Linked DNA regions of Homo sapiens: region 1 is linked to region 2. Evidence: fine-mapped expression QTL. Tissue or cell type: whole blood. Region 2 holds a variant in brackets; the other region holds the start of a gene. All regions are shown on one strand. Distances are between the middles of the regions.

Region 1 (6,074 bases), 54 kb before region 2:
TTTTGGCACTTACCTTTGCAGGAGTAGCTCTTTTGCTCACAAATGTACTTCCTGTAACTACATTTTAAGCTCATTATTTGGATCATGTAGCATCCAGAATTTTATTCTGCTTTGAATAGCTGCTTCCCCAGGTAGACAGGAAACCAAAATTCTCCTACACAAATTTTGGGGCTGAAGTTGGGGCGCCGTGGCTCACGCCTGTAATCCCAGCACTGTGGGAGGCAGAGGCAGGTCGATCACCTGAGGTCAGCCTGGCCAACATGGTGAAACCTGTCTCTACTAAAATACAAAAATTAGCCGGGCGTGGTGGCGGGCGCCTGTAATCCCAGCTACTCGGGAGGCTGAGGGAGAATCGCTTGAACCCGGGAGGCGGAGGTTGTAGTGAGCTAAGATCGCACCACTAGACTCCAGCCTGAGCGACAGAGCAAGACTTCGTCTCAAAAAAATAAAAATAAAAAAAATTTGGGGGTTGAGGGTTGGATGATACTAACTCATGCAAACACCAAACCCTGCCTTTCTTCCCCTTCCCGGTGGCAAGAGGGCTTTTCAGATCAGTGATACATTCGCTGATTCTAGTGTTTTCCACCCTAGTAGTCAAGCCTTTGGGTGTCCAAACAAATAGAGAACAAGAGATCAGGATCTCTAAAGGTCTAGAAAAACCCTGGGCCACTTCCATTTTGTGAGGTTCTCAGCATACTGAAAACTGAAGATGTACTAAGAGTGGGTTACTAAAATGGTGGCGTATCTTAAATCTTTCCATGGCACCATCCTTTCTCTCGTCCTGTCATCCCTGTATCTCTCTGCCCTGACACCTAATCTCACTTCAGGAAACATAAATTGAAAGTTCAAATAACCTCGGATTATATTATTCTGGACTGTGTGTTATGCTGGGCGACGAGGCTGCGCAGGCTCCTGGGCCGAGCCATGACTCTGCAGGAACTGCGGCGCCGGCTCACACAGCGCGGAGCAGTGCACGCCAATCCGGCCAGGCGCTCGCGCTGGGTTCTGCTCACGCCCGTAGGGGCCCGCGTTCGCTGCAACGGGCCCTTCCTGATGGCCGATCGTCGGACTCCTACCCCTTTTGCCGGCTGCCGTTTGCCCCGTCAGCGAAGGGCGCGCGATGCGTCCCAAGTCTCGGCTCCAGGAACCAGACGGGTGAGGGCTACTGGGGGTTGGGTTGGAACGCCCCGAAGGCACCACAGCAACCGACGCGGGAACGCCTGTTAAACCAGCCCCGCCCCGAGACGCGCGCGCCCGGCGGTCTCGATCCAGCGTGGCCCGCCCCTCACCTCCCGCCCAACCAACAGCCACTTCCTGCCTCACTCCCGGCCAATCTTCACACTCCACGAAGAATAGCCGTAGGGGGCGTATGGGACGGTGCGTAGAGCGATGCCCACGCCGGCCAACCGGATGTCGGGGCTTGCGCGGGAGGGCGGGACTTGGCGCCGGCTGTGGCTACTCAGGGGCCAGGGGCGGGCACAGGGCCGGGCTTCGTGCGGTGGGGCTCGCTCGCGCGGCAGCGGTGGCCGAGGCCTCTTGGTTCTGCGGCACGTGACGGTCGGGCCGCCTCCGCCTCTCTCTTTACTGCGGCGCGGGGCAAGGTGTGCGGGCGGGAAGGGGCACGGGCACCCCCGCGGTCCCCGGGAGGCTAGAGGTGAGAGGGGAGACCTGAGCGCGTCCTCGGGCCTGTGAGGACCTCGGGGGGCTGGGAGCGCCTCTGCGGCTGAGGGGTCGGGCGTGGCCGGCGACTGAGGGGTCGGGCTGGCTCTTGAGGGCCCAGGCCCTGGCCGACGCGCCCGCCGTGAGCGAGGAGGCCCGAATCCGGGCGTCTTTGGTTGGGTTGCGGGCCCAGGCCGCGCCGCCGGGGTCGGGAGGCGTGGCAGGTGGCCCGACAGCCTTCTTTGACCTCTGGGAAAGCTGACTTATTCCTATGGCTTTGCTTCTAGGGCTTTCTTAGGCCTCTTTGCCGGCTGCCTGGGCAGCCGCGAGGTGGGCTGGAGTAACTGGGTAAAAGTATAGGGTGGAATCGGGCCTACTAGGTACCCCTAGTAGTAGGGAAGGGTGGTATTAGACCGAGAGGGAATGTTTACAACTAGCGTTACAGTTTAATATTTGAAAATCCAAAGCGGAGACTGGACCCTAGTTCCCTGAAGAGAAAGGGGAATGTACCAGAAGGAGAACACGCAGTGGTTGAGAAACTTAGCAGTTACAGCACCTATTCTGGAGGCGAGTAATCCAGTTGGAGAGGGACAGGGCGTTAAAAGCAGGAAAGCCCCCGAAAGCTCATCTAAGTGCATCTCTTTCCACACCGGAGGCCTGGAGGTATGAAATGACTGGCCCAAGGTCATGCGATTAGTGTACTGATGGTGCTGGGATTATAGTTCAGGGATAGACCGTGCAGTGGTTAACGCTAAGGCCCTGGCTCGAGTCTTTGATTGGTCATTGGTTGCTCTGTGAACTTCGGCAGTTTTCTTACCCTTTGTGCCCCCGTTCTTGTCAAGTAATGGATATAATAATACCCGATGGATTTGTGAGGATTAAATTAAGATATGTATACAATAAGACAGGGAAGTCCGACATTTAGTAACTGCTCGATGATCATTGCGGTACGTTATTATAATCTGAATGCCTTTGGACCAATACACTGCCATCCTAGTGAACTGGTTCAGTCCTGTTTCGCAGGACCTGAGGTCACAGTTATGGTGATAGAAGAAACCGGGCATTGTGTATTACCGCTGGGCATGACACAAGTGATTGCTGGTTGAGGGAAGTTAAACTGAGCTTAATATTAAAAGATTGAGAGGACAAGATTAACCATAGTTAAGTCTTTTTACCTCTGATTTAGGAAATGGAAGATTTTGCTTAATTTTTTAATAAGTAGATTTTTTTAAGGGGGAAGAATTTTATTGATCTTTAAAATCATTCTGTATCTCAGTCTTTTCCCAACATTGTTTGAGGGTCATGAATAGAAGCAACTGCCATATGGATCAACTGTTGTACATTTGGTATAATTATACTTAGAGCAGAGGTAAAGGACTATGTGGGAGTTCTCCTGTGCATCAGCCAGGGTGCACACACAAGCCAGGTAACTGGATCATGAGAATGCTCGAGTGAACTGTGTGTGGGGGTCAGTGTTGCACAACAGAAATTTTCTGACTTATCTGCAAATGGCTGTCAGCATTCCCCGACACCTTACTATCCTTACTCCCCAGTTCATTTAGCGCATTATCTTCTCAGGGCCACAAGGGATAAGTGTTTTGACAGAAGTCGTTGCTGCCGTTTTGGCAATCACACTATTGCATCCTTTTAGTTAGAGTTCTCTTTGCCCTGGAAGACAGCTTAAGGGGATGAAGTGGCAGTTGGTGAGCATGAATTGCAGGCTCATGAAACTTGAATTGTGTGCCCAGTGTGGTAACCTTTTTTTTTTTTTTTTAGACGGAGTCTCGCTCTGTCACTCAGGCTGGAGTGCAGTGGCGCGATCTCGGCTCACTGCAAGCTCCGCCTCCCGGGTTCACGCCATTCTCCTGCCTCAGCCTCCCTTGTAGCTGGGACTACAGGTGCCCGCCACCACGCCCGGCTAATTTTGTTTTTGTATTTTTAGTAGAGACGGGGTTTCACCGTGTTAGCCAGGATGGTCTCAATCTCCTGACCTCGTGATCCGCCCACCTCGGCCTCCCAAAATGCTGGGATTACAGGCGTGAGCCACTGCGCCCGGCCCAGTGTGGTAGCTTTTGTCCCACTTTGGTTTCCGTAACTTCAAAATAGGAATGAGAAGTCTCCTGGGTTCCTCACCTTTAGGGGGCAATTGGGAGGGGCAGATAAAATGGTGAACATGAAACTACTTTAAAAAGTGTAATGAATTGGCTGGGCACGGTGGCTCTCACGCCTGTAGTTCGAGCACTTTGGGAGGCTGAGGTGGGCGGATTACTTGAGGCCAGGAGTTGGTAACCAGCCTCGCCAAAATGGTGAAACCCTGTCTCTACTAAAAATACAGAAAATTAACCTCCAGCTACTCGGGAGGCTGAGGCAGGAGAATCACTAAACCTGGAAGGCGGAGGTTGCAGTGAGCGGAGATGGTTCCATTGCACTCCAGCCTGGGTGACAGAGTGAGACTCCATCTCAGGAAAAACAAAAAAAAAAGTGTAATGAACTGTGCAAATAGAATACGCCGTTTATAATAACTCCTAGGAAATAATAAAAGTACCTAAACAGTTAAAACCTATACAGCTTTTGGTAAAACTTTTCAGGAAAGTCCTGGTTGAATTCTTTGTTACTCCAACAGATGTACTTTTTTTTTTTTTTTTTTTTTTTTTTTGAGACGGAGTCTCCCTCTCAGGCTGGAGTACAGTGGTGTGATCTTGGCTCACTGCAACCTCCGCCTCCTGGGTTCAAGCAATTCTCCTGCCTCAGCCTCCCAAGTAGCTGGGACTACAGGTGCCCACCACCACACCCGGCCCGGTTTTTTGTATTTTAGTAGAGACGGGGTTTCACCGGGTTGTCCAGGCTGGTTGCGAACTCCTGAGCTCAGGCAGTCCGCCCACCTCGGCCTCCCAAAGTGCTGGGATTACAGGTGTGAGCCACCGCGCTCAGCCTTACTTATTTTTTTAGAGACAGGGTCTTGCTCTTCATCAGGCTGGAGTGCAGTGGCGTGGTTATTGCTCACTGCAGTCTCAAACTCCTGCTGTTATTGGTTCAAGTGATCTTCCTGCCTCAGTCTCCTGAGTAGCTGGATCCACAGGCGGATGACGCTACACTCAGCTAATTTTTTTTTTTTTCCTAATTTTTCATAGATACTTCGCTTTGTTGCCCAGGCTGGTCTCGAACTCCTGAGCTCAAGCGATCATCCTGCTTCCTCCAACTCCCAGAGTTCTGGGATTACACGCGCGAGCCACGATGCCAACCAGGAGACCAGAAATTAAGCTCAGCTTTCTTTCTCTCCCTTCTTCCCTCCCTCCCTCCCTCCTTTCCTTCCTTCCTTCTTTTTTAAAACTTTGTGGTATCTGTTTGTGAATTGCTTATTTTACTTACCATATTGTCTTCAAAGTTCATCCATGTTATAGCCGGTGATGGGATTTCCTTCCTTTTTGAGATTGAATAGTATTCCATTGTATGCCTATGCCACATATGGTTTAATCATTCATCCATTGATGGACACTTGGGTTGCTTCTGACTGTTGGCTGTTGTGAGTAGTACTGCTATGAACACGGGTCTGCAAATATCTCTGAAACTCTGCCTTCTTTTTCTGTTTGTTTGTTTGTTTGTTTAAGGCAGTCTTACTCTGTTGCCCAGGCTTGAATGCAGTGGTGCCATTACAGCTCACTTTATTTTTTATTTTTTTGAGACAGTCTCACTCTTGTTGGCCAGGCTGCAGTGCAGTGGCGTGATTTCAACTCACACTGCAAACTCCACTTCCCGGGTTCAAGCTATTCTCCTGCCTCAGCCTCCTGAGTAACTGGGATTACAGGCATCTGCCACCACACCCAGCTAATTTTGTGTTTTTAGTAGAGACAGGGTTTCTCCGTGGTGGTCAGGCTGGTCTTGAACTCCCGAACTCAGGTGATCCACCTGCCTCGGCCTCCCAAAGTGCTGTGATTACAGGTGTGAGCCACCACGCCCAGCCTGCCCAGCTAATTTTTGTATTTTTAGTAGAGACAGGGTTTTGCCATGTTGGCCAGGCTGGTCTCGAATTCCTGACCTCAGATGATCTGCCTGCCTTGGACTCCCAATGTGCTGGGATTATTGGCGTGAGCCACCGCGCCTGGTGGAGTGGTGGAGTCTTTTTTTTTTTTTTGAGGTGGAGTCTCTGTGGCCCAGGCTGGAGTGCAGTGGCGCCATCTCGGGTCACTGCATCCTCCGCCTCCCAGGTTCAAGCGATTCTCCTCCCTCAGCCTCCTGAGTAGCTGCGGCTACAGGTGTGCGCCACCACACTCGGCTAATTTTTTGTATTTTAGTAGAAACGGAGTTTCATCATGTTTCCCTGGCTGGTCTCCTGAGCTCAGGCAGTCTACCAGCCTCCCAACGTGCTAGGATTACAGGCGTGAGCCACCCCACCCTGCCCAACGACTCACTTAGCT
Region 2 (8,223 bases):
TCAGATCACAACCTGGAGATTGATGCGCTCACCTCCTGGAGCCTCCATCCAGCAGGGGCAGTGCTGCCCTCTCCTTGCACTGCCAGTGTGCACCTGCTCTCCGCTTTAATATTAATCATCTTTGATATTCATTTACATGTAGTTATAATAGCTGCCCAAATAGTGAAATAGTAAATAAAATTACCAAATGATCTTCTGTGGATGTGGCCATGTGCTCTTATCTCCTGCGGATTCTTGCTTAGACTTCACATGCTTACTCTGTGAGCCCTTTCCTGAGCACCTTATTTGGAATCATAAGTCCCACCAACTCTCTCTTTGAGTGATTTGTTTTCTCGGGAGTACGTCTCAGCTAGAATATAGGCTCTAGGAGAGCCTGTGGTTTTGTTTGCTTGTTTCTCTGCTGTATCCCTAGGGCCCAGAGAGTGGCTGGCTCAGTCAGCTCTCAATAGATTTTTTTGTTTTTGTTTTAAGACAGGGTCTCTTGACTCCCAGGCAGGAGTACAGTGGCCCGATCTAGGCTCACTGCAACTTCTGCTTCCCGGGCTCAAGCTATTCTCCTGCTTCAGTGTCCTTAGTAGCTGGGATTACAGGTATGAGCCACCATGTCCGGCTAATTATTGTATTTTTTGTAGAGGTGGGGTCTTGCCGTGTTCCCCAGGCTGGTCTCGAACTCCTGAGTGCAAAGCAATCCGCTTGCCTGGGACTCCCAAAGTGCTGGGATTACAGGCCTGACGGCTCTCAGTAGATTCTTATTGGATAAATTGAATGAGATGATGAGGAAGAGTTTGCTAGAAAGAGAAAGGTGGGCAAGGATGACGATTCCCAGCAAGGAGGCAGCTGGCACAGAGCCACAGTGCCTGCTGTATGGAGCCCTTTGTGCAGTAAGGAGCTGCTGCTGGGCCCAGGCGGCAGGTCCCGGGGGCTTCCCTTATCTTCAGTGCTGTCCTGAAAACTTAGTTGTTCAAGGCTACTTTTTTTTAAATCAGAATCTCGCTCTGTCACCAGGCTGGAGTGCAGTGGCACGATCTTGGCTCACTGCAACCTCTGCCTCCTGGGTTCAAGCGATTCTCCTGTCTCAGCCTCCCGAGTAGCTGGGACTACAGGCGCACACCACGATGCGTAGCTAATTTTTTATTTTTAGTAGAGACAGGGTTTCACCATATTGGTCAGGCTGGTCTCAAACTCCTGACCTCAGGTGATCCACCCGCCTCGGCCTCCTAAAGTGCTGGGATTACAGGCGTGAGCCACCGTGCCCAGCTGGCTACTTTCTATAGTTATACTGTCCATGAGGGTAGCCATCAGCCAGGTCAGGTTCTTAAGCACGTGGAATGCACCTTGTTAAACTTGACTTGTGCTAAAAGTGTAAAATGCACACTGGATTTTGATAATTTAGTACCACAGATTTTTTTGGTGCACTCACTTCAGTGGCTGTCACCTGTAATCCCAACACTTTGGGAGGCCAAGGCGGGCGGATCATGAGGTCAAGTTCGAGACCACCCTGGCCAGCATGGCGAAAGCCCGTCTCTACTAAAAATACAAAAATTAGCCGGGCATGGTGGCGCACACCTGTAATCCCAGCTACTCGGGAGGCTGAGGCAGGAGAATCACTTGAACCCGGGAGGCAGCGGGTGCAGTGAGCCAAGATCATGCCACTGCACTCCAGCCTGGGTGACAGAGCGAGACTCCATCTCAAAAAAAGAAAAAAATACCGATTATGGCCAGGCACAGTAGCTCATGCCTGTAATCCCAGCACTTGGGGAGGCTGAACTGGGCAGATCACTTGAGCCCAGGAGTTCAAGACCAGCCTGGGCAGCATGGCAAAACCCCATCTTTACAAAAAATTAGCCAGGCTTGGTGGTGTACACCTGTAGTTCCAGCTACTAGGGAGGCTGAGGTGAGAGGATCATCTGAGCCTGGGAGGTCAGGGCTGCAGTGAGCTGTGATTGCACCACTGCACTCCATCGTGGGCAATAGAGTGAGACCTTGTCTCAAAGAAAAAAAAATACTGATTACATGTTAAAAAGATAATATAGGCCCAGTGTGGTGGCTCACACCTGTAATCCCAGCACTTTGGGAGGCCGAGGTGGGTGGATCACGAGGTGAAGAGATCAAGACCATCCTGGCCAACATAGCGAAACCCCCTCTCTACTAAAAATACAGAAATTAGCTGGGTGTGGTGGCGCACGCCTGTAGTCCCAGCCACTCAAGAGGCTGAGGCAGGAGAATCGCTTGAACGCGGGAGGTGGAGGTTGCAGTGAGCCGAGATCGCACCACTGCACTCCAGCCTGGCAACAGAGCTAGACTCTGTCTCCAAAAAAAAAAAAAAAAAAAAAAAAAATATATATATATATATGGTTAAATAACATTATTAAAGATATTAAGATTTTTTCTCAAAAAATACTGATTATATGTTAAAAAGTTCATATATATTGGGTTAAATATGATATTAAAATTGGCACCATCTGTTTCTTTTTATGTGCTACTAGCAAATTTTGCCCACACTTGTGGCTGGCATATTTCTATTAGTGCTGTTGAGTAATGAGTACGTTTGTACTGTGTTGAGTTTAACACTTTATTAGATACTCTTTTTTTTTTTTTTTTTTTTTTTTTTGAGATGGAATCTCGCTCTGTCGCCCAGGCTGGAGTGCAGTGGCGTGATCTCAGCTCACTACAAGCTCCGCCTCCCGGGTTCACGCCATTCTCCTGCCTCAGCCTCTGGATATTACTCTTTATGTCCTCTTTCATCTGTGGAACTCATTTATTTTATTTTATTTTTTTGAGAAGGAGTCTCACTCAGCTGCCCAGGCTGGAGTGCAGTGGTGCAATCTCGGCTCACCGCAACCACCATCTTCCAGATTCAAGTGATTCTCCAGTCTCAGCCTCCTGAGTAGCTGGGATTACAGGCACCCGCCATCATGCCCAGCTAATTTTTGTATTTTAGTAGAGACAGGGTTTCACCATGTTGGCCAGGCTGGTCTTGAACTCCTGACCTCAGGTGATCCGCCCGTCTTGGCCTCCCAAAGTGCTGGGATTACAGGCGTGAACCACAGCACCTGGCCCATCTGTGGAACTCTTATCTCACTGTCACTTCACAATCATTGGAACAGGAAAGACTGTATTTATAATTACTGATTTCAGTTTGCTCACCTAAATCCTAGATGCTATTTTTTAGTGTGTGTGTGTGTGTGTGTGTGTGTGTGTGTGTGTGTGCGCGCGCGCGCGCGCGTGCTGGGGTGAAGGAGTCCTGAATTCACATTGTCTGTCTTTGGCCTCTGGCAATCTGCCTTCTGATTTCACTACTCAATTAAACCAGTCTATCTTGACATCTTTAATGCGTTTTTACTTTTATTACCCTCCGTGCTACGTTTGATAATATTTCAAATTTTTCTCCTTAAGATAGAATTGCTGCACTTAACTCCCAGATCCATTTGGACAAGTAGATTCAATTGTTTTATTTGTAAAGGGAATAAGGGTGTCCAGCTTGGTCAAAGGAGTTTGAGGAGTACATGCATGTTCTGGACTTACACACCGAGTGATTGATGCCTCGAAGAAAGCGAATGGCAAAGGATTAAGACAGTAGTGGATGAGATGAATCGGGGGGGAGAAGTGTTTCTGTTTGGGTTGTTTTATTATTATTATTATTTTTTTTTTTTTTTTTTTTTTTGAGGCAGAGTTTCGCCCTTGTTGCCCAGGCTGCAGTGCA[A/G]TGGTGTGCGATACTGGCTCACTGCAACCTCCGCCTCCCGGGCCCGGGTTCAAGTGATTCTCCTGCTTCAGTCTCCCAAGTAGCTAGCTGGGACTACAGGTGTACACCATGGTGCCTGGCTAATTTTTTATTTTTAGTAGAGATGGCGTTTCACCATGTTGGTCAAGCTGGTCTCGAACTCCCGACCTCAAGTGATCCACCCACCTCGGCCTCCCAAAGTGCTGGGATTACAGGCGTGGGCCACCTTGCCTGGCCTTGTTTGGATTGTTTTAGAATGTAAAATTGGGCTGGGCACAATGGCTCACGCCTGTAATCTCAGCACTTTGGGAGGTCAAGGTGGGTGGATCCCTTGAGCCCAGGGGTTTGAGAGCAGTCTGGGTAATATGGTGAAACCCCATCTCTAAAAAAATGCAAAAATTAGCTGGGTGTGGTGGCTCCATCTGTAGTCTCAGATACTCAAGAGGCTACAATGGGAGGATCACTTGAGCCTGGGAGGTGGAGACTGCACTTAGCTGAGATTGCGCCACTGCACTCCAACCTGGGTAACAGAGCGAGACGCTGTCTCAAGAAGAAGAAATAAATGAATATGAAATTGAAGGCAGGCATGGTGGTTCACGCCTGCAGTCCTAGCCTTTTGGTAGGCCAAGTCAGGAGGGCTGCTTGAGGCCAGGAGTTCCAGATCAGCTTGGGAAACATAATGAGACCCCATTTATTTGAATAGTAAAAAATTAGCTGAGTATGGTGGCGCATGCCTGTAGTGCTAGCTACTGGGGAGACTGAAGTGGGAAGATAGAGCTCGGGAGGTGGAGGCTGCAGTAAGCTAGGATCACCCCACTGCACTCCAGCCTGAGTGATAGAGCAAGACCCTGTCTCAAAAAGAAAAAAAAAATGTGAAATTGAGCATATATTTGAAAGAAGCCACTACCACAGTGGTTCTCAAACTTGGCCTTTGTCAAAATCACCTGAAGGGCTGACTAAAACCACTTTCTGTGCCCCACGCTTAGAGTTTCTGACTCAGTGAGTATGGGGTAGTGCCTGGGAATTTGCATTTCCAATAGATTCCCAGGTGATGCTGATGCTACTGGCCTGGGATCACACTTAGAGAACCACTGCTCTAGAACAAAACAAATTCAAGTTATTTTTGAGATGAAGAGGGGACGAATTTGAAGGACAGAAAGTCTCAGATGAGGCAGGTCCAGAGGGAATAAGAAGGTGCAGCTGAAGGGAGTTAATCTTTGCAAGGAGAAGTGCTTCCCTCTTACAGAAGAGAGAAAGAAAAGAGTTGATAAGACGCTAAAAGGTTTTGAGGTGAAAGAGAGGCATATTTAAGGGAGTCACCTAAGTTGGACTTTGAGACACAGCTTTAAATCAAATAGATCTGTGTCCAAATCCTGGTTCAGCAGTCACACTCACATTCCAAGTTGTATAACTTCTCCAAGCCTTAGTGCCTTTATCTTGAAATTCAGGATAACCGAACAGCACTTAGCCTGTAGGTTGTTGTGAAGATTGAGTGATGAGCTAGTACTGCTTCCTGTTAGTGAGCAGAGAGAGCGAGCCTGGGAAACAAAAAGACAAAGAACAGAGTGACCTTGACTGTAGCAGTGGGGGAGGTGGGAAAGTTAACTGTGAACTTTCACTGGATACCTGTAATTTGCTGAGCATTAGACTTGGCCCTGGGGATGAAAAGGGCAAGGCTTTGGTCTTCAGGGATGGAAGGAGATGCAGAGAAAGTGAACATGTACAGTACGACACAAATGCTTTACCACAAACATGAAACGTAGTATTGTATACAAAGTACTGTTAGAGCATTAGGGATAGAATAAGGAATTTGACCAGCAGTAGGATAAGTGGTTGGAGAGAAAACACTGCAGAGTTGATGTTTGAGCTAAATGAAGCTTGTCCAGCCTGCGGCCGAGATGGCTTTGAATGCAGCCCAACACAAATTCATAAACTTTCTTAAAACACTATGAGATTTATGCATGGACCTTTTTTTTTTTTTAAGCTCATCAGCTACTATTATTGTTAGCTTATTTTATTTGTGGCCCAAGACAGTTTTTTTTTTTTTTAAGACAGAGTCTCATTCTGTCACCCATGCTTGAATGCAATGGCGTGATCTCAGCTCACTGCAACCTCTACCTCCCAGGTTGAAGCAGTTTTCCTCCTTCAGCCTCCCGAGTAGCTGAGATTACAGGAGCCCACCACCACGCCCAGCTAATTTTTTGTATTTTTAGTAGAGAGAGGGTTTCACCATGTTGGCCAGGCTGGTCTCGAACTCCTGACCTCGTGATCCACCTGCCTCAGCTTCCCAAAGTGCTGGGATTACAGGTGTGAGCCACCATGCCTGGCAGTTTTTCTTCTTTCAGTGTGGCCCAGGGAAGCCAAAAGATTGGACACCCCGAGCTAAATCTTAAAACATTAGTAGGAGGTGGCCGGTCGCGGTGGCTCATGCCTGTAATCCCAGCACTTTTGGAGGCCGAGGCAGGTGGATCACGAGGTCAGGAGATGGAGACCATCCTGGCTAACACGGTGAAACCCCATCTCTACTAAAAATACAAAAAATTGGCCGGGTGTGGTGGCGGGCGCCTGTGGTCCCAGCTGCTCGGGAGGCTGAGGCGGGGGAGTGGCGTCAACCTGGGAGGCCGAGCTTGCAGTTAGCTGAGATCATGCCACTGCACTCCAGCCTGGGCCTGGGCGACAGACAGAGCGGGACTCTGTCTCAAAAAAAAAAAAAAAAATTAGGCGGTCACCAGCCTGGAAGTATATTCTCAGTCCTGAAAGACATTCAGTTTAAGTTGGGGCCCCAAGGGAATGGCAGGGAATTCAACAGAGAAGTTAATTGGGAATCAGATCAAACAGGCCTTTATGTGCCAGGTTAAGGAGTTTGAACTTTATCTGTAAGTAATGGGGAAATAAGACACTTAAAATGGTGCAGATATGTGTTTTATAGCGGTCACACGGATAACATCATAAAGGGTGTGTTAGATCCGAGAGAGAATAGAAACAGAAGTCAGCATGAAGTTATTTCTGTCATCTAGGATAAAAAATGACTTGAACTAACATGGGCGTAGTATGGAGGTATCTCACTGGAGAGAGATTTAGAAGGGCGAATCAGAACTCAATGCCTGGTCATCGGAGAGGACAAGGATTGACCCATGCACTGAGACAGGGTGCATGAGAGCAAGGTGTGGATTTGGGGAGGAAGGCAAAGAACCCAGCTCGGACTGGGTTTACAGTAAACCCAGCTGGGATTACAGGCGTGCGCCACCACGCCTGGCTAATTTTTGTATTTTTAGTAGAGACAGGGTTTTTACCATATTGGTCTTGAACTCCTGAGCTCAAGGAACCACCCACCCGCAGCCTCCCAAAGTGCTGGGATTACAGGCTGAGCCACTGTGCCCGGCTGTGAGTTTGGAATAATGACTTGCACTCTATTTACTGTTAATTTATATACAGCCTGTACAGAGCAGTGTCTGCTGTATAGGAGGACTTTGGTGAATGAGTACTCTATGAGCCCCTGAGAGCGTCTCCTTGTTCAGAGTAAAAGTTGGTATTAGAATTATAGCAATGTGGGTCAAGTGAGGTTGCTCACACCTGTAATCCCAGCACTTTGGGAGGCCAAGGCGGGCAGACTGCTTGAGGTCAGGAGTTCAAGACCAGCCTGACCAACATGGTGAAACCCCGTCTCTACTAAAAATACAAAAATTAGCCAGGCATGGTGGCGGGTGCCTGTCATCCCAGCTACTCGGGAGGCTGAGGCAGGAGAATCACTCGAACCTGGGAGGCGGAGGTTGCAGTGAGCCGGCATGGTGCCACTGGACTCCAGCCTGGGTGACAGAGTGAGACTCCTCTCAAAAAAAAAAAGAAGTATAGCAATGTGGAGTTTTAAAGCCAATGGAACTCTAGATCATCTAACCCAGCCATCTTCAGGTTCTAAATGGGTTATGTCTTAACGTCACACATCCAGTTAGCAATCGCCTGCATTGTTCTCATGTCTACCAAGCAACCTTCTGAGCCTCACTGGTTTCCCAAATTGGTTTTTCTCTAGTGAAGAGAATATACTGACTGCCTGCCAAGCACAAGAATCAATCTATTTAACAATTTTGTTTCTCAGTGAATTCTAACTTTGCTTATCCTGCAGGAAGAGATTGTATTGTTAAATACTTACATAGCTTTGCTTTAAAAAAATCTCTTTAAAAACTTTCCATCGAAAAAGGTGATGGTTATATGCACATAGAACTATACACATGCATTATACTGATATCAGATTCCTGGGTTTGATATTGTGCTGTAATTACGTAAAACACAGTCATTGGGAGAAACTGGGTGAAGGGTGCACAGGACCTCTCTGTACTATCTTTGCAATTTCCTGTGAATGTATAATTATTTCAAAAACGTTTAAATTTAAAAAGATGATGTGAAAACGTTTAGGCACCAAACTACAGAGTTTTCTGGAAAATACCGGAACTGGAACTTACCTTCTCTATGTCCTCGACAAGTGGATTCAGTGACAGGAATGGAGC

What was found. PIP is the estimated chance that this variant, and not a neighbour inherited with it, causes the effect.
Region 1: CANX starts here. The variant in region 2 is fine-mapped to the expression of CANX in whole blood (INTERVAL, PIP 0.97).

The regions. Positions count from the first base shown.
Region 1 is chr5:179,697,449-179,703,522 of GRCh38, forward strand. It overlaps CANX (calnexin), which reads left to right and starts at 1,519. Exons shown (of 15, transcript NM_001746.4): 1 at 1,519-1,654. RefSeq lists enhancers at 624-1,153, 2,714-2,773 and silencers at 1,164-1,573, 1,614-1,903.
Region 2 is chr5:179,750,014-179,758,236 of GRCh38, forward strand. The region is part of intron 1 of MAML1 (mastermind like transcriptional coactivator 1); the gene reads left to right. Among named protein-coding and RNA genes, the nearest start is that of MAML1, 21 kb to the left of the region's middle. RefSeq lists an enhancer at 1-235. The variant A/G (reference allele first, on the strand shown) is at 3,704.